2 separate regions of the Homo sapiens genome follow, and region 2 is linked to region 1. The links come from fine-mapping of genetic effects on gene expression. A gene starts in region 1. The other region holds a variant in brackets. All regions are shown on one strand. Distances are between the middles of the regions.

Evidence for each region. PIP is the estimated chance that this variant, and not a neighbour inherited with it, causes the effect. A credible set is the group of variants that fine-mapping cannot tell apart.
Region 2: its variant is the best candidate, but not a certain one, in a credible set for the expression of SARDH in amygdala (GTEx, PIP 0.73).

What each region holds. Positions count from the first base shown.
Region 1 is chr9:133,735,307-133,740,668 of GRCh38, reverse strand. It overlaps SARDH (sarcosine dehydrogenase), which reads left to right and starts at 2,317. Exons shown (of 21, transcript NM_001134707.2): 1 at 2,317-2,415.
Region 2 is chr9:133,665,993-133,671,354 of GRCh38, reverse strand. SARDH (sarcosine dehydrogenase) reads left to right here. Exons shown (of 21, transcript NM_001134707.2): 19 at 603-771; 20 at 4,485-4,620. Among named protein-coding and RNA genes, the nearest start is that of DBH-AS1, 11 kb to the right of the region's middle. The variant T/C (reference allele first, on the strand shown) is at 3,109.

The sequences.
Region 1 (5,362 bases):
AGCTTGGCCATTCATGGTCAAACCCCGTCTCTACTAAAAATACAAAAAATTAGCTGGGCACGGTGGTGCGTGCCTGTAATCCCAGCTACTTGGGAGGCTGAGGGAGGAGAATCGCTTGAACCGGGAAGGCGGAGGTTGCAGTGAGCCGAGATCGTGCCACCGCACTCCAGCATGGGCGACAGAGCAAGACTCCGTCTAAAAAAAAAAAAAATTAGCAAACCAAATTCAACAGCACATTAAAAAGATCATGCACCGTGATCAAGTAGATTTTATCCCTGGTGGGGTGACTTCTTTGAGGTGGCAGCCCCTCTGTTGGTGTGATCTAGAGCAGGACTGAAGGAAATTTACTCAGGGAAATTTACAAGGCTTCTGTGAAACTGACATGGCAGGGCTTCCAGCCTCCTGTTCCAAGATGGGAAAACTAAGTCTCAGCAAAGGGAGAGGTGATAAGACCAGCCCGAGATCGTACAGGACCCTGTCTTGGCCTCCTTGTCCGGAGCCTGGCCTCTCCAGAGCTGTGACTACTAGTCCCTGGGGGGAGACAGCCTTTCCACCTCTCCCAGACCGGAGCTGGGTGCTAACAGGCCCTGCCGGATGAAAATCCTACGATACTAACAGACAGCTAACAGGCCGGGACCGGCCCCCAGCCACCACCCCTTGTCCAAAGTGCAGGTTCATTGTGCTGCCCTCTTGGCTTGTAACAGTTTTGCAACAGTTGCAACTTGTCTTTGAGTGCAGGGACAGGAGAAGTGTGGGCTACCCGGCCACTGCCCTGGAGCTGTGGTGACTGCTGCGTTTTTCTCCCATGCACTTGCACGTCCAGGACTCCTGGGAGAACTTGGGCCACACTCCTTCCTTGCCCTCTTGAGCTCATTCGTCACCCTGTTGGGTGAGCACAGCCCTAGCTCAGGCCACTGGGCAAGCCACACCATCCAAAGAGGAGGTCCTCTGCCCCAGGACCCCCACACCACCCCAGGTAAGCCTCAAACTGGCGGGGCCAGCTTTCCACTGGGCAGCCAGGGGCCTAAGCCAGTGGGCCCTTTGCCTTTGAGGCAGGGACTGAGAATGGTGTCAGCACGTGGTCAGGCCCAGAGCCCAGGCCCCCTCCTCTAAGAGGTCCTCCTGGATTCCCTGCTGGAAGGAAGCCAGCCTTGTGGTGTCGTGTCTCTCCCTGGATCTGTCTGCTTCGTGGACCCTGAGCCCCTCGAGGGCAGGGGCTGGGTCTTAGATGTCACTATAGGTTTCCCAGCAGTGCTTTGTACACATTGGGCATTCAGTAAATGTAGAGGATAGACAAGCTGGCAACAAGACAGTCGGACATCCTCGGTGTGAATAAGAACACAATGATTTGATTGGTATTAATTACAGCAGTTTACTATACGATCGCTTCCGGTATTGGCAGCTGGCATCATTACAATATTAACAGACTGCCATTGAAATGCCCCGTCTTTGATCCAGCGCGAGGAGGAGATGTGACTTTCCATCAGCACCTGTTCTGATTCTTTGGGCATCCAGAGGTGTATTCTTTCTGGGTTTCCTCCACACCCCTCCTCTGGGTGTCTACTTCTGTCTGGGAAGGGGTAACTTGCCCCAGCCCAGAGTCAGGCTGCAGCATCCGGTCTGCCTCCTCCACCAGCTTGCTGTGTGGCCCCCTCCCTGGGCACTGCTGTCCCCAACAGTCAATGGAGGCTGGAATCCCTGCCCTGGGGGCTACGTGCTGTGCAGTAGCCAGTGGCTTGGGGGCATCTCCCCAAACACCAGAGGGGTCTGGGAGCTCGGGAAAGCAGGACGCAGACAGACCAGGAGACCCTGTCCCTGGGAAGCTGACCCAGGCCTTCTCACTCGCCTCTGAAGGCAGTGAGCATCCTGTCCCTGGGGGTGAGCAAACTGGGGCATGTGCTGAGATGACCTCACCAAAGGAGCCTCCCTGCAGTGGACGGGCCCCTGGCCCAAGCTGCTGCTGACCCCACCTTTCCTGCCCACCCTGCCTGTGCATAGCTCCTTCTGGGCGCGGGGAGCTCGGGCGGCTCCAGCAGGCAGGTGGTGCCTGGGTCTACTGCAGCAACCCTGAGGCGCCTGTTTCAGAGACGAGGAAATGAGGGTTGGAGCGGAAGGGTGACTGCCAGGTCGCCTACGGGTAATGGGGCATGGGGTTCACAACCCTGCTCTGCCGCCCTCAGAGGGAGCTGCCCACAGGGCTGGCCTAGAAGCCCCAACTAAGCTGGCCTAGAAGCCGCAGTGGTGGGCGGTACGCTCCGCCCAGATCCTGGGCGGAGACATGGGGCTGGCAGCGAGGGTGGGGGGCGGGGGAGGCCTGGAGTTCCGGCCAGGCCACTGCTTGGGAAGCAAGAAGGTGAAGGCACCTCTGCTGGGCCAAGCACTCTTAGGGCCGAGGGGCACTGCAGCTGACAAGAGGTACTTGGAGGTACACCCCCAGGGAGGGACGAGGCTGGGGCCTCCCCTATGTGGGCGGGGCTGGGCCTGGTCAGATCTGGCTGGGATCTCCCTCTGCCTCTGGCTGCAGGGACCATCCAGCTGCATGAGCAGGACCAGGGTTCACCATATGGGCAGCTGCCTCCCCGCCCCCTGCCGCTCCTCCCCACAAGTCTGCCTACCCTCACCAGGCGAAGGTGCCAGGCGCTCTCCTCGCTTGACCCCCACCACCCCCTGAGCCTGGGAGGAGGAGGGCGTTCCTGGGTCCTCTGCTTTGCAGTGAGGTTAAGTTGTTGCTCGAGGCCCCAGTCCTGTGACAAAACCCCCACCCATCTGTCTGATCCCAAGCCCAGGGCTGTCCTCAGCCCTCACTCCTGGGAAGCTGACTCAGGTACGAGACAGAGTTGGAGGGGGCAAGAGAGTGGGTTAATGTGGAGGCAGCTGTTTCCAGGGAGGTGGCAGGCAGGAGGGGCTCTGGGCTGTCCCCGCTGGGGCCGCTGCCAGCCCCCAGTCTGACAGTCAGAAGAGCCCTGACTGACCAGGCAGGTGGTGAAGGGGCACGTGGCAGCCTCCGGCGCCAGCAGCTGTCGCTTTTTGGGCACAGTCGGAAGGAGGAGGGAGGCTTTTGCCCACAGCTGACCAGGTGTGCTGTGCCATGCGGCACCGTGGTGGGTGGTGGGTGGTGGGGTGGGGGTGTTCAGCCTTGGAGGGCCTTCCTCGGTGCCACTCAAGCTGGCTTTCCCCTGGTGGGGCACCACTTTTGGGGGCTCCTGGAAGACTGTGGACCTTCAAGGACTGAAGGTATGTACAGACACATGCAGGAGGCATGCCTCCTTGTCCGGGGCCACCTCTGCAGGCAGGAGCCAGGCGGGCTGACACACTGAGGGCTGAGAGGCTGAGGACAAGCTCCAACACCTCCTCACTCCCCTACGCCGCTGCAATCAGACTCCCTGCTCCCTCCCTTGGGATGGGGCACTGGGGCAGGAGATGGGGGGCAGCCCTGACCAGCCTGAGAGCTGGGATCCCCCTCACATCCCCCACTGTGCCTAGGACAGGGTTCTGGGCTTCGTCAGGGCTTGGGCAGTGCCCACAGTTCAGGTGGGACAGAGTGTGGCAGTGGGTCCTGAGTCCCCCTGGGATGGTCAGAAGAGGGGGCAGGAGAGAGTCCCTGGCACTGCCACATGGAGGCCCTATGACCCTGGTCACCTCAGGGAGCCTCTCCGTGTGTCAGACTCCCCCGCTGTGAAGTAGAGACATTATCATGTGTCTATAGGTGTTCAATGAGAGTGAACGAACGTGCATAGCTATGGTCCACTCTTGAAAAAGGATGCTGACTTTCTTAGATAATTATATCAGTCATTCATACTGACGTAGGTGGCACAGCACTTCACATCTTGGATCACAGCCACATCCCTTTCACTTTTCCTGCAGATCCCAGAAAAGGGCAGTGGAGGTCCACACTGGGCAGGACACCACCCCACCCTTCCATTGAGGGCTGTTGTGAGACCTCCGTTCTTAACTTCTTAGTTTAAAGAATTTAGGCTGGGCACAGTGGCTCATGCCTGTAATCCCAGCACTTTGGGAGGCCGAGGCAGGCGGATCACCTGAGGTCAGGAGTTCGAGACCAGCCTGGCCAACATGGTGAAACCCTGTCTCTACTAAAGATACAAAAATTAGCCAGGCATGGTGGCATGCACCTATAATCCCAGCTACTCGAGAGGCTGAGGTGGGAGAATCGCTTGAACCCAGGAGGCAGAGGTTGCAGTGAGCCAAGATCATGCCACTGCACTCCAGCCTGGAAGACAGAGTGGGACTCTTTCTCAAAACAAACAAACAAACAAACAACAACAACAACAACAAAACAGAATTTAAACATGAGACACACAGCAAAAGAGCTGCAACATAGAGCAATTTATTGCAAAAGAAAAAGAACATTTTGAAAGTTAGGTGCGGATGCACCCTGGGAGAGAGAGGATTCCAGGCGGGGGGCTGCTCCTGAGTGTGAGGCAGCATTGATGATTGTTGGAGAAACCCCCTTTCAGGGAGTCTTCCACAATTATTCATAAGTGGGTGGAAAGAGAGGAAGAGGTTACTAGGCAGCATGTGATGGCTGGTCCTCTGGGTGCACATGCGGTAGCTGTACATGTTTGTTCATACGTCACATGTCTCTTTCGCATCTTTTTTTTTTTTTTTTTGAGACGGAGTTTCACTCTTGTTGCCCAGGCTGGAGTGCAATGGCACAATCTCGGCTTACTGCAGCCTCCACCTCCCGGGTTTAAGCAAGTCTCCTGTCTCAGCCTCCAGAGTAGCTGGGATTACAGGCATGCACCACCACCCCCGGCTAATGTATTTTTAGTAGAGATGGGGTTTCTCCATGTTGGTCAGGCTGGTCTCAAACTCCTGACCTCAGGTGATCCGCCTGCCTCGGCCTCCCCAAGTGCTGGGATTACAGGCATGAGCCACAGAGCCCGGCCTCATTAGCATCTTAAAATCTCCACCGAGGGGTGTGTTTTTTTACTATTAGAATGAGCAAAGGGTCAGTTTGAGGACAGGTAAAATCAATGTGCACATGCCCTCTCCAGGGGAAAGGCCCTACTGCAGACAGCTTTGCTTGAACGAGCTCAGTTAACACGAGCTCAGTTACAGTGCAAACGTGGAGGCTGATTGTGTGGATTGCAGTCACCACGGTTGCTGCGTCCCCAGGACATGGTGACTCCTTTGACTGCCTGTCCTGCCTCGCCTGCACCCAAGGAGACATCCGTCTTCATCAGCGCCTTCTCTCCTGAGAAGGAGGGCTCCCTCTTGCATTCTCATTGTTATTGGATTTTTCTGGCTGGGCAGATCTGGGAGGGTTTCCTGAAGGAGGAGGGAGTCGGGGTGGGTCAGCTGGGAAGGAGCAGAGGGGAGGAAGGCCTGTTAACCCGGCTTC
Region 2 (5,362 bases), 69 kb after region 1:
ACCTCTTGCTGCCCAGGGTCTTCGTGCAGGGCCCCAGGGACAGTGTTGGGATCTGCGACACCTACACACACCTGAACTCAGAGAGCTGAGGTGCTGCCTGACACCTGGGGGTCAGGCCCAGGCTGGGTTGGAATTGAGGGCCTTGGTTTCTCTGAGAGCTGTGAAGAATGGAGCCAGGGAGCAGGTGCTGTGGCCTCTGGAAGAAGCCCAGACCCTGTCCAGAGCAAGGATGAAGGCTCAGAGCGGGCTTTGGGCGGTTCCCCAGCGTGTTGGGCACCCAGCTTGGGCGTCAGGCAGCTCCCCTGGGTGTTGGGCACCCAGCTTGGGCATTGGGAAGCTCCCCCTTCACAAGCCCCTCCCTGACGCCCCCACCTGAGGGTGCAGAGGGCTGCAGTGCTGATGGGCAGTCTGCTCGGGGGAGCGGTCGCCCCAGGGAACCTTCTGGAGTTGGGGATGCCCCTGCCTCCTGCCCAGGTGACTAAGCAGCTCTGAGAGTGTGGCTAGGGGCTGGAGGGGGTGGGTTTAGGCAGCATCCTCATGCATCTCCTGAAGGGCTTATCCCCCTCAGGGTGGCACCGACCCCATGGATTCCCTTCCCACAGGCTACCGGCACTGGCACGCGGACCTGCGGCCAGACGACAGCCCCCTGGAGGCAGGCCTGGCCTTCACCTGCAAGCTCAAGTCGCCGGTGCCCTTCCTGGGGAGGGAGGCCCTGGAGCAGCAGCGGGCCGCAGGCCTCCGCCGGCGCCTGGTGTGCTTCACCATGGAGGAGTGAGTATCCCGCTGTTCCACGCCCACCCGGAAGCAACTGCCTACAGCCAGGGCAGGCAGGCGCTTCTTGGTCCCCCACTCAAAGCCCCTGGTACCAACACTTCCCATGTGCCAGCCATGCTCTTCCAGAACGCACCCAACAGCCCACTGCAGATAAGGAAATCGAGGCCAAAGAGAGAGGCCATCTGGCCAGGTCACATGTTGTTAAAGGCAGAAAGGCAGAGAGAGTTTGCTCTTTTTTTTTTTTTTTTTTTTGAGACGGAGTCTCACTCTATTGCCCAGGCCGGAGTGCAGTGGCGCAATCTCGGCTCACTGCAACCTCCGCCTCCCAGGTTCAAGTGATTCTCCTGCCTCAGCCTCCCAAGTAGCTGGGATTACAGGCGTGCACTACCACACCCAGCTAATTTTTGTACTTTTAGTAGAGATGGGGTTTCACCATGTTGGCCAGGCTGGTCTTGAACTCTCCTGACCTCGTGATCTGCCTGCCTCGGCCTCCCAAAGTGCTGGGATTACAAGCGTGAGGATCCCAACATGCTGGGATTCAAACCAGGCCAGTGTAAGGTTGCGCACCTGGGGCCCCTCCCAGGCCAGCAGGGCCCGTGGGGAGGTAGAGAAGGCTCCACACTCTTCCCATGCAGGTCTCAAAAGAGAAAGGTGCAGCCAAGCCCAGGCCACCCCTCTGTGGCAGGTCTAGGCCGAGGGCCTTGGGAGGGTGAACCCAGGGAGCCTGACCTCCCAGTCACTGCAACACGACCTCCCATCCCGTTCTGGTTCAGTCTCCCCACAGCCCTGTGATAGGGGGAGAGGGGCTCGGCTGGGGCCGTCATCCCCACTCACGAATGGAGACCACATGGTGCCAAGGAGCAGGGGACTCACGCCCAGTCACACGGCAGAGGTGGAAGGAGAGACTCTGCCTGGGGGCGACCTGACCTCCTGCTCTCCCCACTGAGAGTGGCTTTGAGCATGCTGCTGGAGCCCGGCGCACGTGATCCCTGGGCTACTGGGAGAGTTTGGATTCCAGGAACCCGAGTCCCACTTGGGTTGCAGGGCAGTCTGAGAAGATCAGGCCCTGATCAGAGGCCCTCCCGTGGTGCCCACGGGGGTCTGAAGCACAGGTATCCGGGGAAGTGGGCGGCTTTGGGCTCTGTGGACATGGAGCTGACAGCCAGCTGCAAACACTGCCACTTCTCCCAGATTTCTGGAGCCTTCAAAAGGAGTGTCAGAGTGACGAGGGGAGGGAGAGGGAGGACGAGGGAGAGGGAGGGTGAGGGAGGATGAGGGGAGAGGGAGGGTGAGGGAGAGGGAGGGTGAGGGGAGAGGGAGGGTGAGGGGAGAGGGAGGGTGAGGGAGAGGGAGGGTAAGGGAGAGGGAGGGTGAGGGAGATGGAGGGTGAGGGAGAGGGAAGGTGAGGGAGAGGGAAGGTGAGGGAGAGGGAGGGTAAGGGAGAGGGAAGGAGAGAGAGAGGGAGGGTGAGGGAGAGGGAGGGTGAGGGAGAGGGAGGGTGAGGGGAGATGGAGGGTGAGGGAGAGGGAGGGTAAGGGAGAGGGAAGGTGAGGGAGAGGGAGGGTAAGGGGAGAGGGAGGGTGAGGGAGATGGAGGGTGAGGGAGAGGGAAGGTGAGGGAGAGGGAAGGTGAGGGAGAGGGAGGGTAAGGGAGAGGGAAGGAGAGAGAGAGGGAGGGTGAGGGAGAGGGAGGGTGAGGGAGAGGGAGGGTGAGGGGAGATGGAGGGTGAGGGAGAGGGAGGGTGAGGGGAGAGGGAGGGTGAGGGGAGATGGAGGGTGAGGGAGAGGGAGGGTGAGGGAGAGGGAGGGTAGGGGAGAGGGAAGGTGAGGGAGAGGGAGGGGGAGGGTAAGGGGAGAGGGAGGGTGAGGGAGAGGGAGGGTGAGGGAGAGGGAGGGTGAGGGGAGAGGGAGGGTGAGGGAGAGGGAGGGTAGGGGAGAGGGAAGGTGAGGGAGAGGGAGGGGGAGGGTAAGGGGAGAGGGAGGGTGAGGGAGAGGGAGGGTGAGGGAGAGGGAGGGTGAGGGGAGAGGGAGGGTGAGGGAGAGGGAGGGTGAGGGAGAGGGAGGGTGAGGGAGAGGGAGGGTGAGGGTGAGGGGAGAGGGAGGGCGAGGGGAGAGGGAGGGCGAGGGAGAGGGAGGGTAAGGGAGAGGGAGGGTGAAGGGAGAGGGAGAGGGAGGGTGAAGGGAGAGGGAGAGGGAGGCTGAGGGAGAATGAGGGTGAGGGAGAGGGAGGGTGAGGGAGAATGAGGGAGAGGGAGAGGGAGGGTGGGGGAGAGGGAGGGAGAGGGAGGGAGAGGGAGGGAGAGGGACGGTGAGTGGAGCCGTGTCGTCGTCATCC[T/C]GTGGCTTCTCCCTGGGTGCCTGTCAGGCTCTGTCTCTTGTGTGACAGCCTGTCCAGCTCCCTGAATCAGCTCAGCTCCTGGAGAGGGGGCCCCTTGCAGACAGGTCAGCATCCATGGGTCCTTTCTGCTTGCCTGACCCCGACCTTCTGGCCCTCCATGAAGTACCTGCAGCCTGATGTCTGGGTTTAGGAGGGCCTCGGACGGCCCCTGTGACCCAGTGCGCTCTGCTCAGGGGTTTCCTGTCAGGCTGCATAATAGCTGCCCTGCGCCGCGGCTCTGGACTGTTGCAGTTCCAGGACAGGCGCAGAGAAGATGCTGGCAGTGGAGTCACAGAGAACAGCCCTGCCACACTGCTCTGGGACTCCGGGCAGTTGGGGCCTCAGCGTCCTCACGTGGAGAACAGAAACTAGGGTGACACCAAAGATGTTTACGAAACCTCCTTCCAGCCTCGTCCTAATCTGATGGACAGGTGGGACCCAAACAGTGACTCCAGGCTGAGGATGCAGGAGGTGCCCTCAACATCACCCCAGCCCTTCCATTCAGGGACCCCTTTGCATAGCTGCCGCCGTGATAACCCATTGCACAGGGAGAAGTCTGCAGACTGGCAACAAAATGTTACCAGTTAGCCCTGGGTGCTGGCCTTTCTTTGATTTTAGCTTACTTTTTTTTTTTTGTCTTCCTGCTTTTAATCTTTAAAACTTTTACAGTGAGCATTCATGTATTACATGTAGTAAAGTCCTTTGAATAAAGTATGTATTGTACTATAAAAAAAATGAACCTGGCCGGGCGCAGTGGCTCAAGTCTGTAATCCCAGCACTTTGGGAGGCTGAGGTGGGCAGATCACTTGAGGTCAGGAGTTCGAGACCAGCCTGGCCAACATGATGAAACCCCATCTCTATTAAAAATACAAAATTAGCCGGGCATGGTGGTGGGTGCCTGTAATCCCAGCTACTCCGGAGGCTGAGGCAGGAGAATCGTTTGAACCTGGGAGGCGGAGGTTGTAGTGAGTCTAGATTGTGCCACTGCACCAAAAAAAAAAAAAAAAAAAAAACCAGAGTTGAACAACAATGGAAGGAAATCGGAAGCAGGGGCCCTCCCAAATATACGGGGCTCGCTTCTGGAAACAGCAAAGTCCACTCCTGGTTTTGATGTTTTCTATTCATCCCTTTTACTCACTCGAAGCCCGAGCCCTGCTGTCCAGGCCAGGTGCTGGGCTGGCTCTGGGGACCAGCGTAGTCCTAGTAGGCCAGCCCTATCTGCCTGGAGCCACGGTTGGGTGTGCATCATGCAGCCCCCCATTCTCCTCCAGGCCGCTGTGGACGCGTCCCCACCCTGCGGTTTCTGGGGCCCCAGCTTTCTCTACTGCTTCTTCCAGCAAAGTACCCATGTTTGGCCTGGAGGCCATCTGGAGGAACGGCCAAGTGGTGGGCCATGTCCGGAGGGCTGACTTTGGGTTCGCCATCGACAAGACCATCGCCTACGGTTACATCCATGACCCCAGCGGTGGGCCGGTGAGTCCCCTTCTCTGGCCCTGCTAAGGCAGATGCCGATCCCTCACCAGCTCCAAACCAGCTCCCTGCACTGCACCCTGAGTGTGCCGGGCATAGGGAGGAGGCACGGGTGTGGTCCAGAAGAGGAGGAGGGAAGAGAAAGGAGGGAGGAGGGAAGAGGGGGAGGAAGGAAGGAGGAGAAGGAGGGGGAAGGAAAAAGGGGAGAGAGGAAGGAGGAGGAGGAGGGAGAGGGAGGAGGGAGGGAGAAGGAGAAGGGGGAGGAAGAGGCCTCAGCAGGTGGAGGACTCCCCAGCTGTGCCTGGGCAGAGCCAAAGCTGCTCTCTGTTTTCTTTCTGGAAGAATCCGACTTTGGTGATTCCAGGCTTTTTTTGGTTAGAAGGAGGTGCCAGCCAGCCAGGCTGATACCTTCCAGCTCCTCACACCAGAGACCCAAACCTCAGGCCACCCACAGCCCACCCTTTGCCTGGGGTGCAGGGGTGGCCCCCAGGGTGACCGACTAGAGACTCAGAGACCCATGTTCCTATCCTCTCTTTCCTCACCCCCGACACCCCTGACCCCAGGCAACCCCACCCCCTCCAGGTGACCCTGACCCCTGGCTGCAGGAGGCAGGAACAGGCTGGAAAGAGCAGGCACTGCCCCCAGGAGCAAGTCCCAGGACAGCTCTGGGTGGCCAGGGGTGGTGGGGCAGGGGGTGGGCAGCCTCCCCAGAAGGGGAAGGGGTGGTCTCTACCTCCACCTCCTT